Homo sapiens: one gene and its partner. The protein of the gene in region 2 purifies or fractionates together with the protein of the main gene of each other region. This does not show direct contact. Each region holds a gene or a part of one and is shown on either strand. Other genes may lie near its edges.

Evidence for each region.
Region 1: the proteins of MMP24 (region 2) and BLTP3A purify together in Homo sapiens (affinity purification with mass spectrometry; one large-scale study listed by BioGRID and IntAct). This does not show direct contact.

What each region holds. Positions count from the first base shown.
Region 1 is NC_000006.12:34,868,583-34,872,082, reverse strand, and holds part of BLTP3A (bridge-like lipid transfer protein family member 3A), read right to left. Parts: intron 1,230-3,500; coding exon 967-1,229; intron 500-966; coding exon 391-499; intron 265-390; coding exon 158-264; intron 1-157. UniProt on the Homo sapiens protein: Tube-forming lipid transport protein which probably mediates the transfer of lipids between membranes at organelle contact sites. May be involved in the retrograde traffic of vesicle clusters in the endocytic pathway to the Golgi complex.
Region 2 is NC_000020.11:35,229,447-35,233,474, reverse strand, and holds part of MMP24 (matrix metalloproteinase-24 preproprotein), read right to left. Parts: intron 1-4,028. UniProt on the Homo sapiens protein: Metalloprotease that mediates cleavage of N-cadherin (CDH2) and acts as a regulator of neuro-immune interactions and neural stem cell quiescence.

The DNA of each region.
Region 1 (3,500 bases), on a different chromosome or scaffold from region 2:
CAGCACTTCTAGAAGCCGCTGCTAGGTGACAGGAACCCAAAACACCCACATGCAGGCAGCACACGCAACCTTTTTGCCCCCCAACCCCGGGTTTTACCAGTTTCACAAGTATAGCCCCCAAGGGTTATGGGCAGCTACTGTTCTGTTAGGTCCTCACCTGCTGTTCAAAAACCTCTCCTGTGGGCACCAAAAACACCTGTTCTTTTGGGGGCTGTCTCTTCTCACTTTTAAGTACTTCAGCTGATGGTTTGTCCTGAGCAGCAGCTGGAGAAAACAAGTAAAGGTTCTAAGTGACAAACTGCTGCCAACTCCCAAACAGTTCCTAGGTGTCACCTATTCACTTTTAGGAGAAAAGGCAGAGAAACCAACAGGCTGACAAGCCTGACTCACCGCCTATGTGGAACACACCATCATCACTCCTCTTCAGCACAACATGTTCCATGGCCAGAGTGATGGGGATGGGGCCTGGAGATGTTGGATAGATGGGGGGGATATCATCCTGCAGGAAAGAGAGAAACCACATGATGCCCCCCACCAGCTCAGAGCAATTTAACACAACCCATGCTCCCATCATTCAGCTTGAAGCAGCTTTATGCCAGTTTGTCCATACATTCTTGGAAGGTATAAGAGGCATGGCAGATTCTCCCATCTAGAGATGGTGAAACTGAGAATCAGATAACCTGATGGCTTGCACATGGTAATGCTGCATGCCAAAGACAGGGTTAGGGTTACAGACAAGGTCTCCTCACCTGAACCCTGGCTTTTCTGACAGCAACACACATTTATATACCACTATAACACTGACAGAGAATGCAAATATGTATTAATATTTCCTCACTTGATCCTCACCATATTTTACAGTGAAAAGGGAAGAGGTTAACAGGTGTCACTGCTTCCTTGCTTGACAAAGTCCAGGGCAAAAACCAATGTGCCCTTACATTGGCAAAAACCAAAGGTTCCTCACACCTTTAGGGTGATGCTGGAGTTCAGAAGCTCAATCTGCATGGGGACTACCACCGGGATCTCCTCATCCTCCAAGAAGGGCCCCAGGCCACTGAGCACTGAAGTGAGCAGCTCGAGGTCACAGCCATGAAGCAATAAATGTAGGAAGCCATTTTGTGAGGCCAGGGGGGAATGAACAGCTGCTCCAGGCCCCACCTCAAAGCGAAGGCCCACAGCTGGCCTGATGTGGCCAGTCTTCAAAGTTGAGGATTCCTGAAAGCATGTACCTTTGTGAAGAAAGACAAGGAAGACAACTAATTAACGGCCAGGGAGTCTTCTAGGCACCTTATATACCAATATTCATAATAACCCTATGTCAAAGGAATATCATCATTCTCATCTGACTGAACGAAGTCACAGAGAATAACTTGCCCAAAATTACATAATTAGTAAGTAGCAAGGAGAGGATCTGAACCCAGGCAGTCTGATTGCCAAGTCCATGGGCTTAGATACTTTGCTATAATGCCTTGCAAGGTGGAAGAGAGATTAAGGATTGGCCTTGTTATGAATGTGAGACAGTGGGCTAATGGCCAAGGAAAAGCTCTTAAAACACAGGACTCCCAAACTCTACTAAATTTGAATGTCTCCTCCTTTCTCTAAGTCTTGGTTTTCTCATCTGTCACTCATAAAGCAAAGCAGGATCTATGCTAATCTCTCCAAAACTCCAAACAGAACACTCTCAGGTGTAGCCAAGGATCCTGTGGAACAACTTACACATTTATGGAACTGCAAATTGGTACAAACATTTTGCATAACAATTTGGTATTATCTAGTAAAGGTGAAGTTGTGCCTACCCTAATGATCTAGAAATTATATTGTCAGAAATACAACCCCAGGGAAACTCTCAAACATATATTCCAAGAGACATGTACAAGGATGTTCACAGCAACCCTATTTGAAACTGGAAAAACAAACAAACAAACAAAAACTAGAAATAACCCAAATGGCTGTCCAGAATAGAATAAAGAAGTAAATAGTATAATGGGTACAGGGATATTTTGGGGGTCATGGAAATGTTCTAAAATTGGGTTGTGGTGATGGTTACACAATTATAAAATTGTACACTTAAAATGAGTGAATTTTATGTTATGCAAATTATACTTCAATAAAGCTGTTTTCAAAAAGCAAAAAGTGCCGTGCACAGTGGCTCATGCCTGTAATCCTAAGACTTTGGGAGGCTGAGGCGGGTGGATCACTTGAGTTCAGGAGTTCAAGACCATCCTGAGCAACATGGTGAAACCCTGTCTAAAAATACAAAAAAATTAGTCAGGCGTGGTGGCAGGCACCTGTAGTCCTGGCTACTGAGGAGGCTGAGGCATGAGAATCACTTGAACCCGGGAGGCGGAGGTTGCAGTGGGCTGAGATTGCAACCACTGCACTCCGGCCTGGGCAACCCAGCAAGACTCTGCCTCAAAAAAAAAAAAAAAAAAAAAAAAAAAAGTGGTGTATGTATACAATAACATTATATAGTAATGAAAAATGAACAAATTATAGCTAATTCAACAACCTAGATGAATTTAAAGAATATCATGTTACTTGAAAGAAGCAAATCACAAAAATAGTACAATCTATTATTCCATTTAGAAAAATGTGAAAAAAGCTAAAAATACATTAATATAAACACGTGTACAAATTATAAAGTAAAGCAAGATAACAATGAATACAAATTCAGGATAGTGATTACCTATGACAGGTGAGGGACAGAAGGAGGTTCAGGAGAGGGACTCCCAGAGACTTAAAAGGTAATGGTACTGTTGTATTAATTAAACTAGGTGGTGGGGCCAGGCATGGTGGCTCAGGCCTGTAATTCCAGCACTTTGGGAGGCTGACATGGACAGATCGCTTGAGGCCAGGAGTTTGAGACCAGCCTGGTCAACATGGTGAAACCCCATCTCTACTAAAAATACAAAAATAAGCTGGGCGTGGTGGTGTGTGCCTGTATTCCCAGCTACTCAGGAGGATGAGCCAGGAGAATTGCTTGAAGGAGGTGAAGGTTGCAGCACGTCGAATTCGTGCCACTGCACTCCAGCCTGGGCAACAGAGCAAGACTGTGTCTCAAAAAAAAATTAAAAAACAATAAAACAAACTAGGTGGTGAGTAAATGGGTTCATTGTATTGTTATTATTTTATGCCTTACATATATTTTATAAGTGTTCTTCAGTATCTACTCAATATTTTAATGTTTTTTAAGAGACAGGGTCTTGCTCTATTGCCCAGGCTGGAGTGCAGTGGTGCAATTATAGCTCACTGTAGTCTCAAACTCCTAGACTCACATGATCCACTCACCTCAGCCTCCCAAGCAGCTAGAACTATAGGCACGCACCGCCACACCGAGCTAATTTTTTTTTTTTTTTTTTTAAACAGAGTCTTGCTCTGTCACCCAGGCTGTAGTACAAGGGCGCGATCTCGGCTCACTGCAACCTCCGCCTCCCCGGTTCAAGCAATTCTCCTGCCTCAGCCTCCCAAGTAGCTGGGATTACAGGTGCCTGCCACCACAC
Region 2 (4,028 bases):
AGTTTTTGCCATATAGGCTTCAGATATAACTGACTCCTGAGTGGACTGATTGATTGATTCATTGATTGATTTTTGATACAGAGTCTTGCTTTGGCTGGAGTACAGTAGTTCAATCCTGGCTCACTGTAACCTCCGCCTCCCAGGTTCAAGTGATTCTTGTGCCTCAGCCACCCAAGTAGCTGGAACTACAGGCATGTACCACCATGCATAGCTAATTTTTTTGTATTTTTAATAGAGATAGGGTTTCACCATGTTGGCCAGGCTGGTCTCGAACTCCTGGCCTCAAATGATCTTTATACATACATATGTATAAAGAGAGAAAGGAGTAAAGAACAACTCCTGACTTTCTGGCCAAGTACTTTTGGTGCCCTTTATGCCTCGTAAGTGTTTGTGGCATAGAATTGAGTCTTTAAATTACTGCTAACAGGCAAGGCCAGGGCTCATGCCTGTAAGCCCTTTGGGAGGCCAAGGTGGGCGGGTCACTTGAGCCCTAAAATGAGTACTCGCCCCTAAGTTGTGCTAAGAAAGCTTAAAAGCATTCAGGGCAGGAGCCAGCAGCCAGAACAACTCAGGAACAAACTCCAGTCCCTCCACTTCCTCAACATGGCTCTGAGCAGGTCGCTCCTCTGCTCAGAAACCTTTAATGACTCCCCTCAGCCTTTGGACAAAAGCCAAATGCACAATCTGCTCTCAGTCTCCCTCTCCAGCCTCTTCTCCTTATACACTCTTACTGGAAACAGCAAGTAACTTGATGATTCAGGCACATCAAATTATCCACTGTTTCCTAAACATGCCATGCATTTTTGTGGAGCCATGGTTCATATTTTTTATTCTGCCTGGACTGCCCCACTCACCCTTCTCCATCATTCTCCTCCCTCAAAGGTTCATCTCAGATACCACCTTCTTCCTGAAGCATTCTCTGGCTTCCCGAACCTCAACTGGGGAACCTCATCTCCTCCCTCTTCGGTGCTTCCCGGCACCTTGTTATACCTCTAGCATGCATTCATTTATTCTTCACAAAAGGTAGCGACTTTTGTGTGCCAAGCACTATTCAAAGAAGTTGATGGGGATTAGATAACAAAATTAATTTTAAAATATTTATCACATGTCCAGAATGTATCATGCACTGTGCTAGGTACTGAGGAGATATTGGCTGTGGTTTGTTCTTCCTGTTTTGAGTTCAAACAATACCATACTATAGGGCTAGGCATTTCCTAAGATTAGTCTTTTGGGTACAATTATAATTTACTTTTATTAGTTCTAAAAATACCTCTTTCAAGGACCAGAGTAGGACATACTTGAAAGTAGAAAAGACTGGCTAAAAGGCTACAATAATAATCCAGAACAGGAAACTTGTATAGTGGGCAGAGTGCTGAGCCCAAGAACAGAAAACCTAGCTTCTGTTATTTGCTTTAATTTCTTTTTTTCTTCTGAGACGGAGATTCACTCTTTTGCCCAGGCTGGAGTGAAGTGGCACAGTCTTGGCTCACTACAACCTCTGCCCCCGGGGTTCAAGCAATTCTCCTGCCTCAGCAGCTGGGATTACAGGCATGCACCACCAGGCTCAGCTAATTTTTGTATTTTTAGTAGAGATGGGGTTTCACCATGTTGGCCAGGCTAGTCTCAAACTCCTGACCTCAGGTGATCCACCTGCCTCGGCCTCCCAAAGTGCTGGGATTACAGGTGTGAGCCACCATGCCTGGCCTGCTTTAATGTTTATGAGCTATGTGTGGGTCCTTAGACAAGATGATAGGCAATTCACATCATCTTTGAGTCTCCTTTTACTCACCTATAAAATGAGGACAATGTCTTCCTTATCTACCTCATGGTATTGTTCCCAGGACCAAATAGGGCCACATACATGGCATATGGGAAGTGCAAAGCACCTTACAAATATAAACAGCTATTAAAGTAATATGAAACCCCACAGTAAAAATAAGAGAAAATGAATTAAAAATACAGTAGACTAGATCCAGCTTATGTAAAAGGGAAAACTTCCTAATAGTGAGTTTTTTTTTTCCAGACAAGAATGAAGATATACTGGAGGCCATGATCACAGTGAAAGAATATTTTGATTTGGGAATACGTTGGTGCTTCTTAGTAGGTCACTCTCTTACCCCTCCAATCATTCGGGGTCAATCTTCCTTGACTACAGTTTCAAACCAAAGACTGTTCTCCATCTCCTCAGCACAAACCACTCAAAACCAGTCTCAAGGGCAGGAATCCATAAGTCCTGGGTCTAGGAGTCACACTCTGTTACTTATTCATGTGGCCTGTGATAATTGACTTGTCTCTTTCATCCTGTTCTGATCTTCCTCAGAATCAAGTTGGAAACTAGGAAGGCCAGAAAAGTATTTGAGGAGCATTCTACTCAGCAAATAAGAGAAGTGGTGCTTTTAATAAATCAAATGAAGGAAGCCAGTTAGAGAATCAGTGGGACCTCTTGATGTGTAAGATAAAAAAGAAAGACTAAAGAAAGCATAGGATCCTGTTTGTTGAGCTTCAAGGGGTCGGGGGTTGTGGGGTGTGGAGAAAAATAAAGCAAAGGAGAAGATAGACTGAATAAAAAAATTTTTTGGCTTGGTAATGAAAGATCATAGATACGAAATGAAAAATCAATGATGATGAAAAATGCTTTCAATTTAGAAATCAGGAGAACTAGGAAAAGTTCTACAGTAGTTCCGAATCATCTACTATCACGTTCTGTGCCCTTGGGCAACTCAATTAAAGAAGTATCTAGTAAGTGCTGTAGTAGGTACTGGGTGATCTCTAAGGTCACGGTTATCTCTCAATTTCTTTCTATTGATGCCACTACCATTAGAAGACTACCTAAAGAGTTCTGAAGGAACTCAAGGGTGAGCTTGTGGAACCACTGCCAAAAGGAATAGGCTTGATTTCTACCGAAGAAAGTACAAGTTGGCAATGAGTCCCATCTCTAAGAAGGGTTTTAGAAGGGGGCTTGGAGCCCCATGCCCATGAGTGCCTATTTCAGATCCATGTAACTTTTTGAGATAAAGGATAAAGAGTAGAATCATTGATTGCTCATTGAATACTTAATGATGAGCATTGAGAATCAGGGATTTTGTTCAATGTAAAAAAATAAAACATTTTGGTCAAGAAAGCCTTGCCTAAGAACCAACCTTCCTCTCCCCAAAAATAATGTTTAACTATTAAAAAATAAATAGGGCTGGGCACGGTGGCTCACACCTATAATCCCAGCACTTTGGGAGGCTGAGGAAGGTGGATCACTTGAGGTCACGAGTTTGAGACCAGCCTGGCCAATACGGCGAAAACCCTTCTCTACTAAAAATACAAAAATTAACCGGGCGTGGTGGTGCATGCCTGTAATCCCAGTTACTCAGGAGGCTGAGGCAGGAGAATCGCTTGAACCTGGGAGGCGGAGGTTGCAGTGAGCCGAGATCACCCCACTGCACTCCAGCCTGGGCAACAGAGTGAGACTCTGTCTCAAAAATAAATAAATAAAATAAATAAAAATAAGTAAATAAATAAATGACAAACTGGCTGGGGCTGCCTTAAAAATGTTTCCTGGAGAAGAGAGAAGAAAATGACAACTAGAGAAATCAGGGAAAGTTTATTGGAGAAGCAGGGCTTGAGCTGAAACTTTAAGGAAAGGTTTCAAATGAACGGGTAGGGGTGCAGAAGTAACTATGTGACAATGTCCAGAGAAATATGGGCAGCCTGTCTAAGGGTAAAGGAGAGATGAGCTTGTCGAGTAAGGATGCGTTATCAATAAGCAGTGGGAAATATGGCCTGCTAATGGAGGGGTAGGGTGGAGACAGACTCCAGAGGGCTTAAAAGACAGAAAGAGGAGTAAGCAATATTATCTGCCGGCTTAAAAGCAACAATATTTCTATAAGGTGTCAATCAAGTGATCCCCTAGTGTTCAGTGAAAGGATAATTAGGCACAAATTATTGAGAGAAGCAGTGGATATAATTTGTCTATCTTTCAGGAAGTTTTGGACAATGTATTAGACATTTAAAATGGAGTCATTGTCAAATTAAGGATG